2 separate regions of the Homo sapiens genome follow, and region 2 is linked to region 1. The links come from fine-mapping of genetic effects on gene expression. Tissue or cell type: monocytes after Pam3CSK4. Region 1 holds a variant in brackets; the other region holds the start of a gene. All regions are shown on one strand. Distances are from middle to middle.

Region 1 (8,184 bases):
CACCATTTTTCTTTCCTCCACAGCAAACCTGTCCTATTCAATGATAACATCTAGACCCAGAAGGTGATAATAACACCTAGACCCAGAAACACCCAGAAGGTGGTTTCCCATCAATTTTCAAAGACTGGCGGAGGGGACCCAAATTCTGATGTTCCCTTCTACAAAATCATCAAGGCTGGGGGCAGTGGCTCATGCCTGTAGTCCCAGCACTTTGGGAGGCCAAGGCCAGCAGATCACTTGAGGTCAGGAGTTCAAGACCAACCAACATGGTGAAACCCCGTCTCTACTGAAAATACAAAAATTAGCAGGGCATGGTGGCAGACGCCTGTGATCCCAGCTACTCGGGAGGCTGAGGCGGGAAAATCACTTGAACCCGAGCAGTGGAAGTTGCAGTGAGCCGAGATCAAGCCACTGCACTCCAGCTTGGGCAAAAGAGCAAGACTCTGTCTCAATAACAATAATAATAATAATAATAAATCAAAATCATCAAAGTTGGGATTTAGTCAGAGTTACAAATACCTACCCATTTATTATGAGGACTAAACTCTGATTTTTTTATCTTGCCTAAATTCCTATCTAAGGGGTCTGGGGAGTCATGCCCTACAAACCATAAAATCTCATCAGATGTGTTTTATTTAACCCTATATATCATGACTTACTTTCCAATCTGACTCTGGCATAATATTACATGACAGAGAAGAAAATCAAAATATTTTACCCCAAAATATGTTTCTTTGCCATATATTGAAATGTCCCTGCAAAGCCATCCTTTGTGGGGGAAAATTTGCACCTGTAAAGAATCTCTATTAACATAGCTAGATCTTTTTCTTCCAGGCCCTCCCAATCCTGAAGAAATTAACTGAGAGTTAGCACCTTTTATAGATCTGAATAGGAAACATTTGTCATCTATTGTCTCTAAGGGCAGCCACAATGAGACTTCAAAAGAACCTCAATCTCCACAACTTTTTATCTTAACCTGAACATTTCCTTGCTATTGATCCCAGGTCTTTAGACAAACTCAACCAATTGTAAACCAAAATATGGGAAGCCCCCCAGCCCCACTCCACTTAAAATTGTCCTGCCTTACTGGACCAAGCCAATGTATTTCTCAAATATATTTGATTGATGTCTCATGCCTCCCTAAAATGTAAAAAATCAAGCTGCACCCCAACCACTTTGGACACATGTTCTCAGGACCTCCTGAGGGCTGTGTCATGGGCCATGGTCACTCATATTTGTCTCAGAATATATCTCTTCAAATATTTTACAGAGTTTGACTCTGTCCACTAACAATTACAGATACTCAAAAAGGGAAAAGAAAGGTGTAATGAGAATAAATTTTATCTAAATAGTGACTTTTCTTTGTATGAAGGTGTTTCCTCCTCCCCATGAGGTAACCATTGATACCTTCTCCCCAGTGAGGTAACCACCGAGGTAACCACCGCATTTTGGAACCAGAAAAAATCCTCAGAATCTCTATGATCTCTCCCATCCACTTACCAAATGAGGAAACTGATACCCAGATAAGTCAGATGACATGGCCACAGTGAAAAAACTAGCTACTGCCAGAAACTTACCTGCACTTTCAAAAGTTTCTAGTAAAATAAAAGTGAAAAAGGAAAGAAGGGAGGGAGAGAGGATTGACTAACAGAAGAGCTGCTTTCAGGAAAGTTGCCCATACAGTGAAATTTTTAAATAAAATTCTATGTACCAGTTGATTTTTGTTCTAAAATTGGAAATACAGATAGGGGTGTAGTCTATCGATGGACTCAGTTGAAAAAATTTGCTAATTTAAGAGTTAAAGAGGGAGCCAAACACCCATGGAATGTTGCTGCTGTTGAGCTACAGTGTTGGAAGCAATAGTACTTGGGGCGCTTTTCAGTCAATAACAATTACCAACATTTGTGAGCACTAGGCACTGGAGACTAAATGCTGTTTTCTCTATTCCACACTTAGTCCCCGTGACAACTCTGCAAGGTAAATTCTACAGATCTCCTCATTGTATAGATGTGGAAACAGAGGGCCGGATGCAGTGGCTCACGCCTCTAATCCCAGCACTTTGGGAGCCCGAGGTGGGTGGATCACCTGAGGTCTGGAGTTCGAGACCAGCCTGACCAACACGGAGAAACCCCATCTCTACTAAAAATGCAAAATTAGCCGGGTGTGGTGGCGCATGCCTGTAGTCCCATCTACTCTGGAGGCTGAGGCAGGAGAATGGCTTGAACCCAGGAGGCGGAGGTTGCTGTGAGCTAAGATTGCACCATTGCACTCCAGCCTGGGCAACAAGATCAAAACTCTGTCTCAAAAAAAAAAAAAAAAAAAAAAAAGATGTTGAAACAGAGACAGAGAGATTAATAAGTTGCCCAGGTTCATATGTGGGATGGATCTAGGATATCCTCCTCAGCTCTTATTACTAATACTTCTCCCAAGATCACTGGGTACATTTCTATGGGTTGTATCTGCAAAGGAGCCCCAGGCTGGGGGTAGAGAGGGTGGGGAAATGTGAAGGCTGAAATGTAGCCCATAGTTTCCTTACCAAGCTATGGGGCTGCCTTTTTCTGGAGGAGGCAACCTTTTAAAATCCACACAGACACTTTTATGAGCCAGTGGTGGCCCAACTCCTTTCCCAACTAGTTTCCATGCCTTGAGAATTTTAACTACAAGGAGCCGATATTCTTGGAATTTTGTCCTGTGTCTGAATGGCCAGTTGCCTAATAGAACAAGAAATATTATAGCTCATGCATTTTGTCCATAGGGGTTGCTGCAGAATGTGTCATGGTCTACAGCGTTGCCTGGGCTGGGATCGAGTGGGAAGTAACTGAAAGTGGGCATGAAGTAAGTTACTGAGGTTCTGTGAAAGTGTCTAAAACTGGAATGCAGTGAAACTTAATAAAAATCCAACTATCCACTTACAGTGAGTGAATTGTATGTAAATTGTACTTCAATAAAGCTGATTTTTTAAATACCATGATCAGATCAGCAACTCCTTAAGTTGGAGTCATTCTGTAAAGTCACTCTATAAAGATAAAGCATGTCCAAGAATGAATAATGTCGTGATAAGATTAGATAAGTGTATGGGATCTAAAGACTCAAAGACCAGGGCTTCATGGGCTTCGGAGACCTACACAGTCACACAGAGCCCTAAGCTCAGAAAGACTCTGCCCTAGGCTTTATGACTTGTGGTTTCTGTCCGTCTTGATATTCTTAATGATTTCATTTTTGAACGTGTGCTTTATAAGTGAAGACCAACAGGACAATGAGGCCCGTGGATGTGCAGAGGAGATACCTGCAACATGTGTCCACACCTTGCCACCCCTTTAGCTTATGAAATATAGCACTCAACGTGTCCCATGAACACAGAATTCTAGTGACCCACAATGTGTGGGAATTCCGTGACATTTAAAGCCAGTCAAAACAAGCATATTACTTCCATGACTAAGTATGAGCAAAGAGGGGAATGACAGCCCCCAAGAGGCCACACTTTCTGTTTGAAGCGGAACATGCTTCAAATGCAGACAGAAAGCTTTCTAAGAAAGGCGAATGACCCAGAAACCATAACATTTCCTTC[G/C]TGACTCTTGTTAATTCCTTGCATGAGTGAACCATTCACCCTGAAAATGATGACATCAGAGGAAAGGAAAGATAGAGCAACCCATAATTCCTTTTCCTTCCAGCCTTTCCTTATTTATCAATACACTGAAGGTGGAGAGCGTTGGTAGAATGTGCCCATATCAAAAAATGAATTAAAACAGTTGAGTCCGTTTTGTGCAGCATTTCCACTGTTCTAAGAATGAGATACATACATGAGAGCTACAAAACACAAATCTTATGTCAGTAATTCCGTGGGAATTAAATGCTCTTACATTAGCATTAAGGCTGTCATCACACAGTATAAAGATGAATGCTAAAACTCATGCTAATTTAAAATTTTATTTTTTCTTCACTTAGAATGGCATTAAATAGCAGATTTTTTAAAAACGCTATGACAAGCCAAGAGACTAAGGAAGAAAGGAAAATGTGTTATAGTACCTGTAATAGCACTTCTTTCCTGCATTTTGAACAGTGGGTCCCACGCTCTCATTTTGCACCAGGCTTCACAAATTCTGAAGCAGCCCTTTTAAAGATAAGTGTTGAGCTGGGCACGGTGGCTCATGCCTGTAATCCCAACACTTTGGGAGGCCGAGGCAGGTTTTCACCTGAAGTCAGGAGTTCAAGACCAGCTTGACCAATATGGTGAAACCCTGTCTCTACTAAAAATACAAAAATTAGCCGGGCGTGGTGGCAGGTGCCTGTAGTCCCATCTACTTGGGAGGCTGAGACAGGAGAACTGCTTGAGCCCAGGAGGCAGAGGTTGCAGTGAGCCGAGATCGTGCCACTGCACGTGAGCTGTGATCACACCACTGCACTCCAGCCTGGGCAACTGAGAGAGACCCCCGTCTCAGAAAAAAAAAAAAAAAAAAAAATGTAAGTGTTCAACCTCCTAACTGAGGTTGGAAGAGATTGCATAACTTGCCCAAGATCACAGTTAGAAGCAGACCCGGCTCTATAGCCCAGGACCTACTCCCAGGCCACTGGTCCTTCTACCATTCTTGTAGTCCAAAACAACAAGTTGGTTTAAAACTAGAGATTCCTATAAGAATAATATTTCAAGGCTGGGCACGGTGGCTCACACCTGTAATCTCAACACTTTGGGAGACCAAGGTGGGCAGATCACATGAAGTCAGGAGTTCAAGACCAGCCTGGCCAAGATGGTGAAACCCTGTCTCTACTAAATATAAAAAAATTGGCCGGGCATGGTGGTGGGTGCCTGTAATTCCAGCTGCTCGGGAGGCTGAGGCAGGAGAATCACCTGAACCTGGGAGGCAGAGGTTGCAGTGAGCTATCACACCACTGTACTCCACCCTGGGTGACAGAGTGAAACTCTGTTTCAAAAAAAAAAAAAAAAAAAAAAATCAGTTCAGCAAGTTCAAAGAATGACCAAATTAGACACATTTGCTGCAAATGGCTCTCAGAGGCTTTGAAAAATGGCATTGTGGCATTTTGTTTTAAGCAAGTAAACATATTTTCTGAGCCTAGAATTTTCTCCAATCACTAGAGAGCTTAAATAGATTATAAATACAGCATAGAGAGTATTCATGCAAAACCATTGCAGCTAAATGTCTATTTGTAAAGTCAGCTGGTTTCCAGTTAAAAGTTTGTAAAAGAGGGAAAAATAATATGCTTTATTTAAGTATGAACAGAGGAAGGCCTAGGTCCTGCCTCTTTCCTGAGTATTTAAAGTTCTGTGCCCATAATGGATACAGGAATCAGATGATCACACTGGAGAGAAGTCAAAAGTCTTGCTCCTCCTTTGATGTGAACAACAATCTTGGTAATTGTTGACAGAGAAGTAAATACAACCTGCCCTCTAGTTTTTGAATTCACAAGTAGTAATTATTGTAAGCAAGCTCTAAACCACCTTCAGAAAAATCTGTCTTTGAAAACACAAGATGTGATAGGCAAAACAAATAAAATAAAAACCTAAGTCAATCTGGTTTGGGTTAGAAAGAATCTTTTTGGTAAAATTAAATCTTTGTATCGCCCTTAATGCTTTGAGTCCCATCCCAATGTGGCTTATTCATTACCCACTCTGTAGTTTTCCTTCCTCTAAACCCTCTCCTCCTGCAGTGCCATGGAACTCATCAACAGCTCCTACAATGTAGCAGGTAAGTAAACACTAAGGATTAGGGCCAAGGGTTGGGACAGGAGAGTGACAAACATAATAATTATAGCTAACATTGTTTAAGCACTTCCTATTTGCTGGGCACTTTGCCAAGTGCTTTATGTTCATTATCTTAATGATTCTTCACAACAGTTCTATGAGGTAGGATTATCCCATTTCAACATGAGAATACAAAATCACAAAGAGGTAAAAACTCGCCCTCTAGGTCACACCAAATCTGGAATTCAAAGCCAATCTCGACATCAGATAATGAGATGTCTGTTTTTCTCTTTACCTCTGCCCCATATCTTCTTATTTCCCCATATTGCCCATCCTTAGAGCATCCTGATGCAGAGACATTGTTCATTCAGGTGGTCGAGTATGGATGGTGATATATGGAAAGCATTTTATCCAAGGCCACCATTGACCAGGGTCTTTGTGGGAATTATTATAACAAAAGGCACTCTCCTTTGAGCTGTTGCAGAACAGGAAGGTTTTGCTCCCACTCTTTGCTGGACACCCTTTGGCTGGGCACAACCTCTGCAGTATATGCCAAAGTCCTGAGCTCATCCTAGTCATTTTGAATAATGGTCATTTGAATGTCCAGTACTTTTAAATGACAGCGATATGATGACACTTCACGTGATTACATGTGGACTATCATGTGTTCTAGAGAGGACAAATATGTCCTTAAAAATATACAAAAGGGGGCCAGACGCGGTGGCTCACGCCTGTAATCCCAGCACTTTGGGAGGCCGAGGCCAGTGAATCACGAGGTCAGGGGTTCAAGACCAGCCTGGCCAACAATGTGAAACCCTGTGTCTACTAAAAATACAAAAATTACCCGGGCGTGGTGGCAGGCACCTGTAATCCCAGCTACTCAGGAGGCTGAGGCAGGAGAATCACTCAGACCCAGGAGGTGGAGGTTGCAGTGAGCTGAGATCACGTGATTGCACCATTGCATTCCAGCCTGGTGGACAAGAGCGAGACGAAGTCTCAAAAAAAAATATATATATATATATATACACACATATATATATATATATACACACACACACAAAAGGGGCTGGGTGTGGTGGCTCACACCTGTAATCCCAGCACTTTGAGAGGCTAAGGTGGGCAGATCACGAGGTCAGGAGTTCAAGACCAGCCTGGCCAACACAGTGAAACCCCGTCTTTATTAAGAATACAAAAAATTAGCTGGGCCTGATGGTGGGCGCCTGTAATCCCACCTACTCAGCAGGCTGAGGTAGGAGAATCACTTGAACCTGGAAGGCAGAGGTTGCAGCGAGCCGAGTGTGCACCACTGCACACTAGCCTGGGTGACAGTTGGAGACTCCGTCTCAAAAAAATAATAATTATTATTATAAATATATATGTGTATATATATATATGTGTGTGTATATATATATATATATACACACACACACACACAACAGGTTATTCAACAAATTTGTAGGCTTGTTTCTGTACTCCTCTCTCTGAGCCTCAACTCCCAGGAGACTGAATAAAGACTAGAGAGTTGGGTGCTGTTGAATAGACTCATTAAACTCGATAGCCCTTAATTGGCAGACACACAGGAGGAAGCTCCATGTGTCTTATACATTAGCGTTCCTGAGAGGAAGCAGAACGCAACCATTATGGAAATAAATCGAATCAATAACAGTTTCCCCAAACATAGTCCAAGCCAGTGGGTAAGATAAGAACTAGGTCTGCTTTCAAAACAATGGTCTGATTCTAACCCTGTTGATAACTTTCTTCCTATCCAATCAAGAACTATGCTGTGTTCAACTTGTCTGAATCTTCAGATAGCCATTAATGTTGGAAAATGAGTGGTTTCCTTTGTTCTAAGGGAAGCCCACAGAACACGTCACTGTGGTAGTCTCTAGAATTTACAGCAGGGAATCGAATCTTTCACTGAGAGAACAACAACAAAAAAGCTAATCATTTGGTATGGTTCAAAATGCCAACATTTCCAGGTGGGTACAATACATATTCTCATTTCTAAAGCAGATTGTCAATATTCATGTATTATATTAGAGTCTTGATTTTTTTCAAGAACTAGTAAGTCAAGCTATCTTATTACACCACCAAAATTTGGCTAATTGCAAAATCACTGCATTATATCTACCATAAACCATAGCAAGTTTCCTGCCAGCATGATCACTGTGAAATCAGCTCTTTGAGGCCAAACCTCAAAGGCCCACATAATAACAATGGCTGCCATTTTAGGTGACATAGACTTGGAGTGTATAAATCTCAAATCAGAAAAGACTCCAGTGAACCATCACAGTCTTGCTAGTCTTCAATAACTGGAGAATAGAGCTATAATTTAGTTTGAAGTGCGTATGGGGAGAATTCATGGTGGGAATCTGAGCCTCAGAGAATGCAAAGTCAACTCACTACTAATAGGAAGTGACATCGGTGGCAGCAAATCCTCTGAAGTGGCAAGTTTCTTTCAGGATATACTGTGCTAAGATTAAAGA
Region 2 (8,184 bases), 120 kb after region 1:
CTTGCAAGCTAATCACTTAACCTGCTATAGTTTCATGGAAGCTGGCAGAAGACGTGGGGCTTTGCAGTCAAAGGGCTGTATTACTCATGGCACAGCAAGCAGCGCCAGTGTCATGTTCAGTCAGTTCCCTTGCCCCCAGGTCTTACCTGGAGCTACATGGTGTGGTTCAGGTGAGTGATGCACCTGCAGTGGGTTTGCCTCACAGCTGAGAAACTCTATCTAAGCTTAGGAAATCCCCAATCTTTTTATAATAGGCTGCAAGAAAACCTGCTTGACCTTTACCTCCAAAGACATTATCTTCACTATATTGGATGGTAAACAAATGTGCCCCTGCTCTTGGCGGGGAGGGGGAGCAGGGCAGGGGACACTATGTATATTTTCCAAGGCAGTTTGACCAAAAAAAAAAAAAAATCCTTGAAAATATAGTCTAAAACAAAAGCTGTTAGTGCCTCTGCTCACAAGACATGCAGAAATACTAGAGTCCCACAGAGAATTGTCTTCCAGCACATTTCTGCATTTCTTCCCACTAGTCATACAGAAGATTGCTCTCTTGAAAATGATCAGTGATCTAATTTCCCGATCTAACAACCTTCTAGAATCCCAGAAATAAACTCATAGGACAATAATCATTCAAGAAATATTTATTGGGTAGCTTCTATGTGCCAGGCACTGTGCAGGCCCAAATAGACATGGTCTTTATCCTAATGTGGGGAGCAACAGACATTAACCTAGTAGTTACACATACCAAAATGTAGTTACAAGCTGTGGTAAGTCATAAGAGGGGAGGGTATATGGTGGTAAGAGAGCTGACATAACAAGGTATCTTGAATGTATCTGGGAGGTCAGAAATGTTTTTCCCAAGGATGTCGCTTTCAAGCTGAGACCTGAAGGATGAGTAAGAGATAGGATAACTAAAGGAGAGAATGGCATGTACATAGAGCCTTTGGTTGTTGGGATCATAGCATTTTTGAGAAACTAAAAGAAGACCAGGAAGTCTGCCCAGGAAACAAGGTGAAAATGGTGTGAGATGAGGCTGGAAAAGGCAGGTAAGGCCAGACCTCGTATGGTCTTTTAGGCTGCCTTAAGAATTCTAGACTTATCCTAAAGCAATGAGAAACTGTTTAAGGAGATTTTTGGAGTAGTGACATAGTCTCATTTGCTTTCTTAGAGGATAATTTTGGCTGCAAAATGGAGACTGAATGGAGGATCCCAGATTGTATACAGTGAGATCGAATTAGATTGGTGGTGATTGGAAAGAAGTAGACCAATTAGATTTTAGAAATAAAATTGCCAGGAGTTAGTGCTGCAACAAATATGGAGAATGGAAGAATGGAGGTGAGGGAGACATCAGCGGTTACTGACTACTAGATATTTGATTTGAATAACTAGAGAGATGGGGGATAAGGAAAACAAGTGTTCATGAACTCAGTTGGACTAAACTTTGCAACTTTGAGATATTAAGTGGCCATGTCAGTGAAGCTTGGAATTTAGAGGTAGGGTCAAACTTTGACTAGTGGATCAGATTTGGAATTTAGAGGAAAGGTCTGGGCTGGAGGCATATATGTGGAGATCACTGGCATATAGATGATAACTAAAGCCATTGGCGTGGGTGATGCTGCTTAGGCCAAGAGATTACAATGAAAACAGAAAAGAATCTAAAACTGAATTTTAAGGTACTGTTATATTTAATAGTTAGGGAGACCAGCAGGAATATGCAAAGGAATCAGAGAAGCAGTGCCTAGGAAACTAAGGAGGAAAACCAAGAAAATGCAGTGTCAAAGGAAGAAGAAATGTTTAAGAAAGAATAGTGGTCAAAGTGTTGAGTATTGTTGAGAGGCCAAGAAAGATGAGGATTGAAAATGGCTCCCATTTTATTGATAAAAAAAAAGTGAAGCATTGAGAAGAGAACTTGTTCAAAGCCAACATAATTTCTTGACCCTCTCTCTGTTCCCAGAGAACTCATACTGGTGCACATGCTAGGGTCATTTATGTGTGGGTTTTCTTCTCTCCAAAGGCCATAAATTCCTTGGTCTTCACTTTACTTCACCTTACTGCATTGCATATTATTGACTACAATCTCTAGGTCTTCAATAACATTCTTAAATTATGTGTTAATCTCCTTCAAAAACAGCTGATCTTCTTTACTCTGCCTTTACATGTAGGCATGTCCCAAACATATTTTTTTAAATATAGTTTTTAAAAGTGCCATGTCTTGGCCTCTCCCTGGACAAAGGAATCAGAATCTTGAGGGGGTAGATTGCAGGATTCTGTATTTTCAAAAAGCTCCTGAGTAGGAAGCAGAGTAGGAAAGTATTAGCTTAGCGGTAAGTTTGGAAACCACTATCTTAGTCTCAGACCAAGCATAGTTGGGCAGTAAGATGGGGAAGCCACCCCATTCGCCCACACTCTGATAAAATCCTCATACTTTGAAACAATATACAGTTATACTTCAATTATTCCAAGATCAACTTGCCAGCTGTCTCGAAGAGGGCCAAATCCAAAAGTTAAGAAAAGGAAACATCTCTCACAGGGAAAGAACTTCTGATAGTGAAGAGCAATGAAAATATCTCAAGATACCACTGCCCTATTTACAACCAGAAGAAAAGAAACCTCTCATTAGCTGGCTGTGGACATAAACATCCCATCAATCTTCACCTGGAGCCGCAGAGAAAACCAGCCGAGAAAGGAGAGAAGAATGAAAAATAAACAGTAAAGCAGAAAGAATAAGAGGAAGGATCAGAGTGGATAGAGGCAGATGAGGAGATGAAAAGCAGTGAAGGATTTTAGAAGAGGTGATGAGAACATTCCAAAGAGGGAAAAAAAGAGAGCACCAAAGTAGGGATTCTATACACCGCAGCAATCCTCTGGGACTTAAACGTATGGCCAAGATATCGGTTTGAGAGTCAGTTATCAACAAAGGATTTAATTAGCCATTGTATTCTTTAAGAATATAGAGAATAATCACATTTTAAAGAGATTTCTGTAAAACAGTTTTAAAAATACAGCTATTTTAAAAGATCGCACAATTAATACACTGAAATAAAGCCCAGACATGCAACTTGTTACATCCATCACCATTTTTGAAAGGACAGTTCCTGAGGCTGGACTCACCGGCCCAAGTACTACCCCCTCCCCAGGTCTCCGGCGGCAACTGTAAGTCAAAAGCCCTCAGGCATTATTGCAGCGTCCCACATTGTTTGAGGTTCCAGGAAGTCGCTGCTACGCTCACTTGTAAGTCTTCGTGCTGTTGTAAAAATTGAGGTCGTGGTTTTCCACGCGATTTGGCTGGCGAAGAGACCACGAAGCCACCCCCCACGTTTTCAACTGAGTAAATATCTAAATATTTTTGCTTGCTATCCAGATCCTGGGTTCGAAGTCTTTGGGATTAGAAACTTCCAAGCCCATTTCAGAGGCTTCCTAGTCCTTGGGAGGAGTGTCTTTTAAAGCACCTGCCAGCCTTAAGTTCGCGTGCTTTCGGAAAGGGGCCGACAGGGTGCGTCTCAGGGGAGCCTTTTGAAATGTGGATTGAGAATTGTGTGAGTGTCTCTAGGAACCTCCATTAACTCCACTTTTCCTGAGTGTAGCTCCGAGCCTGGCCACAGCGGATGCTACCACAAGCCAGGCGCAGCCGGGCCTCGGGAGAAAGCCGGAAGCCCGAGAGGGTGTGGGCGCTCCGGGAGCCAAACGCGGCCGCTCAGCCGCCACGCGCCGGTGGCCCCGCGGGGACTCGCGTTCCGGTGAGAGAGCCCCGGCGCGGCGGGCTCGAGGCGGGGGTTCGGGGTCCCGGCCGCGGGCTCCGTCGGCGGGGCCCGCGCAGCCGCACTCGGCGCGCCGACTTCGGGCTCCTCCTCCCGGCTCCGTAGTAAGCATGGCGGCGGCGGCGTTCGTGGTCCCTCGGGTGAAACAGAAAGCGGGAGCTACGCGGAGAGGGAGCGAAGAGCGGGGCTGAGGCGGCGGCGTCACTGCCAGGAAACAACCCCAACAGTCAGCGCGCCGGCGGCCGCGGCGGCCCTGAGAGCTGACTCTGCAGCTGAGGTAGAGAGACAACGATCAGGAACCCTAAGAAGAGGCGCCAGAGGAGCCGCCTTCTGCCTCAGAACGGCGTGACTCGGAGGTGAGAGCGCGGGCACTCCCTCCGCGAAAGGCGGGGGACACCGAGCCGTCCCAACCCCGTCCCGCCCCGGAGGAGGCGCCGCGGAAACCGTTAGGCTGGGACTGAGGGCCGGGGCACTCTCCAGGGCTCGGCCCCGTCGAGGGGCGCGGACCACCCCCTTCTGTGGGCGCGCTGTGGGCAGAGGTGCAGAGGGGCAGTGGGGCCGGGGACAGGACCGGTCTACTAGTCGGGCACCTGCCGGGGCCGAGCCTAGCCAGGACACGCTTGCGGGGGCGCGGCCGGGGGCGCCATCCAGCCCAAGAGGAGGCGGCATCTAGCCCGAGGGAGGTGGCGCTGGTGCGCGGGCGGCCCTTCTCTCTGTCCCCCGCCTCCTCCCCGCGGCGAGCCGCGTAGCTCCGGAGGGCTCGGGGGCGGGGGCGGGGGCGGGGGCTGGGGCGGAATCCTCCTGAGAGGATCGCCCAGCACCCGCGGCGCCTTCGGCTTTGGCCGCCCGGCAGCCGCCGAACTTGAACGCTTTTCTGAAGAGAGTTTTCCCCGCTCATCTTGGGGTTAAAACCTCGAAAACCCGCCCTCTGTTTGATCCTGCGTGGCTGCTTCCAGTACCTGGCAGTTCCTCTCCCCGGGCGAGTTAACCACCTGTTCAGTCGGGAGGTGGACTCGAGGCTGCAGTCCTCGCCCGGTTTTAACAACCTGGATCTTCGAACTTTTGACACGGCTTTGGAAACGACGTCATGTGTTAGGTAAAGGAAAATGAACAGATAATTTCGCTGTCAGATTGCGAGCAGAAGAGGGACTGTTTTAATGGATGTGGTCGTTAATTGTTCTTTTATTCAACTGTTAGCGTTACAAGCCTTGGGATATTTTAGAGGGTGGAATGCGATGATTTGCTGGGGGTGCTAGAGATTGTGAATTCGAGATTTTCTTTTGTGAGATTTTACGTAAGTTCCTTTGGACACCTTTGTGTCTGACCATCTATTAAATAAGAGTCGCAGGCTGATGAGATTTTTTTTTTCTTTTTGCGGTATAATCATTATGTGTTCACTATGGGTTTTTAAAACCGAACAACGTAATTATTTTGCTTCTTACTGTGGTCTGTGTTTTTTAGTTCTTGAAACCAAAGTGTGTATGCTTCTGTATTGTAGGAATGAAATAACAGTTGAACTCTTACTATAATATTTTATCACCATGCTGTTACCAGCTCCAGTACTAAACATACGCCACTCAGGAGTTTGAGCCATATGTTAGGCAGAAACGAATTGAGTTTTGTGGTTCTGATCTTATGTTTGGATAAATATTTAGTTTTTGCGTATTTACTAACTCTTGTCATCTTGTGTCACCCACAAATGTTCAAGTGAGTTGAATCCCCTGTCTTTTGGATATTTTCTTGGTTGAATTAATTTTTCTTAAGTAATGAGATGAAGTACTCACTGAGACAGATGGTGGCCCAACAGAAAACAGTGATGAAGGATTTTTACCACATCTTTTATGAAATATAACCTGAAATGTTGCTTTTAGCTTTGTAGCCTACTAATCTTGCTTTCTAATCACACCAGTTAGTGGGAAGAAGGGATGATGACAGGAGAAACATCTTGTTAAAATTTTAATATTAAATCTTATATTTAAATTTTTTAGCACTACTACATTAAATTTTACTATATTGTCTTGTTTCATTTCATAGATCATCTGTTAGTTTTCTATGTGTAGGTTAACTGGAAAATTTTTTATCCCAGGCTGGCTACCGTTAGCCACCTGTATGCTTCTGAATTAACTCCCTCTTTTTCCCTTTTGTCTGAATCCTCCAAATCATTGAATGCTCCGGAAAAATAAAATCCTGGTTAACACTGTCAAGCATAGTTATAAGGGTAATTAATTTATCCCAAATTAATAATAAGCATTAAAAAAAACATTCTAGGATTATCTTCTTTTGGTGACGTCTGTGTCTTCACTTCCTCTATCTGTGTGAGTAATTGAGACCTGATTTATTTTAACACACATGTAATGATTACTCTTTACTAGTCACATTTCTACAATATAATAGTAAGCATATTTTATTACTAATTTAAAAATTTCTCCCTCTTCCCTGACCAGCCAGACATAGCTAAGGGCTGAGACATCCTTAACCCCCCGAAAAAAAGAGGGAATGCATGATTCATATTCTCATTGTCTTTTGTAGTTTTAGGCAAAGAGCATTTAATTTATACTTTATCAATTTTTAGTAATATTTGCGCTGTTTTAAAACATTTGCATTTTTTAAGATGTTCATGACATCCAAGGCTTGTGTATTTTATAATCTGCCAGTATTTTTAAAATACAATTTGATGAAGTAACCAAAAACGTTTTTTTTTTGAAACATTGTTGGTGCATTTTTGAATGAAAATGAATCTAGATCGTGTCTTTGAGAATGGTGTAGGGATATGCACATGATTTCCAATTTTATTAGCCAGATAACTAAGTGATTAGTGTTTCTGGTTTTTTTTTGTTTGCTTTTGTTTTTTTTGTTTTGTTTTTAGCATTGCCTAGCGGACTTCAAATAAACTCACAATATTGTAATTCCGAAGGTTTAGAATATGGTGCATATTTATTCCATTGAGCCTTTTACTGCTTCAGTTTATCACATTGCAAAACAAGAAATATGGCTCCCATATGTGTGAATGTCAAAAACTACTTGTTAAAACGAAATTAGTGGCCATTAATGTTGAAAGGCAAATTTTGTACTTTTACATGTATTGTGAGCTTTTATAATTTTCTTAATATTTTGGTCTTATTTCAGATAATTATTCAGTGGTCTCTTTTTATATCTTTATTCTTACCTTTCTGTCTTCCCACTGTTGTGGTTTTGCTTGTCTTTAATATATACTTTCAAGTTTTCTGTGTAACCTGTGGTCTTCCATCAAGTTCCTTTGTGGGTGTCATCTTTCAATGTTTCCAATCACTTATCACCCATTACCAGTCCTTGGGCTATTTTTTCCTCCAAGATTGAGAACTACACCTGGGAGATGTCATGTGCTTGCAGGGTGATGCAATGTTATTAAAGTGGGGATACAAACATAGTGTGATGTCTTCCTTCCTTCAAGTAGTTTACAAATTAGTTGGGGGTACTAGACTAATAGTATCATTAGCAAAAATTATAATATGGTATTATTAAGTTGTGTGACACCAACTGGAATTTAAAGGGAAGTGAAGCCAGTGAGAGCTAGAACAATCCTGGAAGGCATTTGGAGGGAGTCAGAGGAAACTTAGAAATGATTTAGATAACAAAAGGAAAGGCATTCCAAAAGAGATTCACAGGCAGAGTTGGAAGTAGTAGTAGAATAAGTAGTCCAAGAGCATCCAAGGACAGAAATTGGGACGAAGAAAGAAAGAAAGTTAGGTCGAGATGTTAGCTTAAGCACCAGGGCATCAGAAGAGGAAAATAGGCAGAGCTGGACAAGACAGTTTGTATCATTAGGAACCTATCACTGAAAGAACTATACCTCAGCTTTGACATATTAATAGCTTAAGCTTTATGTATAATGGATAGCTTATATGTGTTTGTTTGTATGGCTTAGGTCAGGGGTCGGCCAACTTTTTGTGTAGAGTGCTAGATAATTAAATATTTTAGGTTTTGCAGGCCATTTACAGTCTCGGTTGAATGTTCTTGTTTGTTTGTTAGTTTTTTATAATCTTTTAAAAACGTAAAAATTTTTACATTGTTGTCTCAAGAGCCAAACAAAAACAAGCCATCTGTGGACTGGATTTGGCCAGGGGACCTAGTTTGCTGACTGCTAGGTAATAATTGGCAAAGTAATTGTCCATATAGCACATACTGTGAAATTTCTTGCATCATCTTGTCTATATGGTGGTTTGGGCGTTTTATGACTATCATGTATATATTTTTCCTTATGTTATCCTAAAAAAAAAGTATGTAGAAATAAGTGCTTCTGTAATTGTTATTTTGTGGCCAGACTTCTAACAAGAGCCTAGAATAGGTCTCAGAATTAGGAAGTGAAAGACGAAAAGCCTTTGAGTCAGGCCTTACTACAGTGAAAATAGCTACACAGTGGCTTGATTTAGAATTTGTATAAGGTTAG

Direction of the effects. Alleles are on the strand shown, and positions count from the first base shown. SD is a standard deviation of normalised expression in the study named.
With allele C in place of G in region 1, the expression in monocytes after Pam3CSK4 of the gene that starts at base 3,849 in region 2 is lower (moderate effect, 0.50 SD a copy in Quach 2016).

Evidence for each region. PIP is the estimated chance that this variant, and not a neighbour inherited with it, causes the effect.
Region 2: FNDC3A starts here. The variant in region 1 is fine-mapped to the expression of FNDC3A in monocytes after Pam3CSK4 (Quach 2016, PIP 0.95).

What each region holds. Positions count from the first base shown.
Region 1 is chr13:48,850,438-48,858,621 of GRCh38, forward strand. No RefSeq gene overlaps it. Among named protein-coding and RNA genes, the nearest start is that of FNDC3A, 120 kb to the right of the region's middle. The variant G/C (reference allele first, on the strand shown) is at 3,569.
Region 2 is chr13:48,972,064-48,980,247 of GRCh38, forward strand. It overlaps FNDC3A (fibronectin type III domain containing 3A), which reads left to right and starts at 3,849. Exons shown (of 26, transcript NM_001079673.2): 1 at 3,849-4,114. RefSeq lists enhancers at 3,054-3,113, 3,384-4,003, 3,814-4,113, 4,004-4,623, 4,784-4,883 and silencers at 3,564-3,833, 4,164-4,643.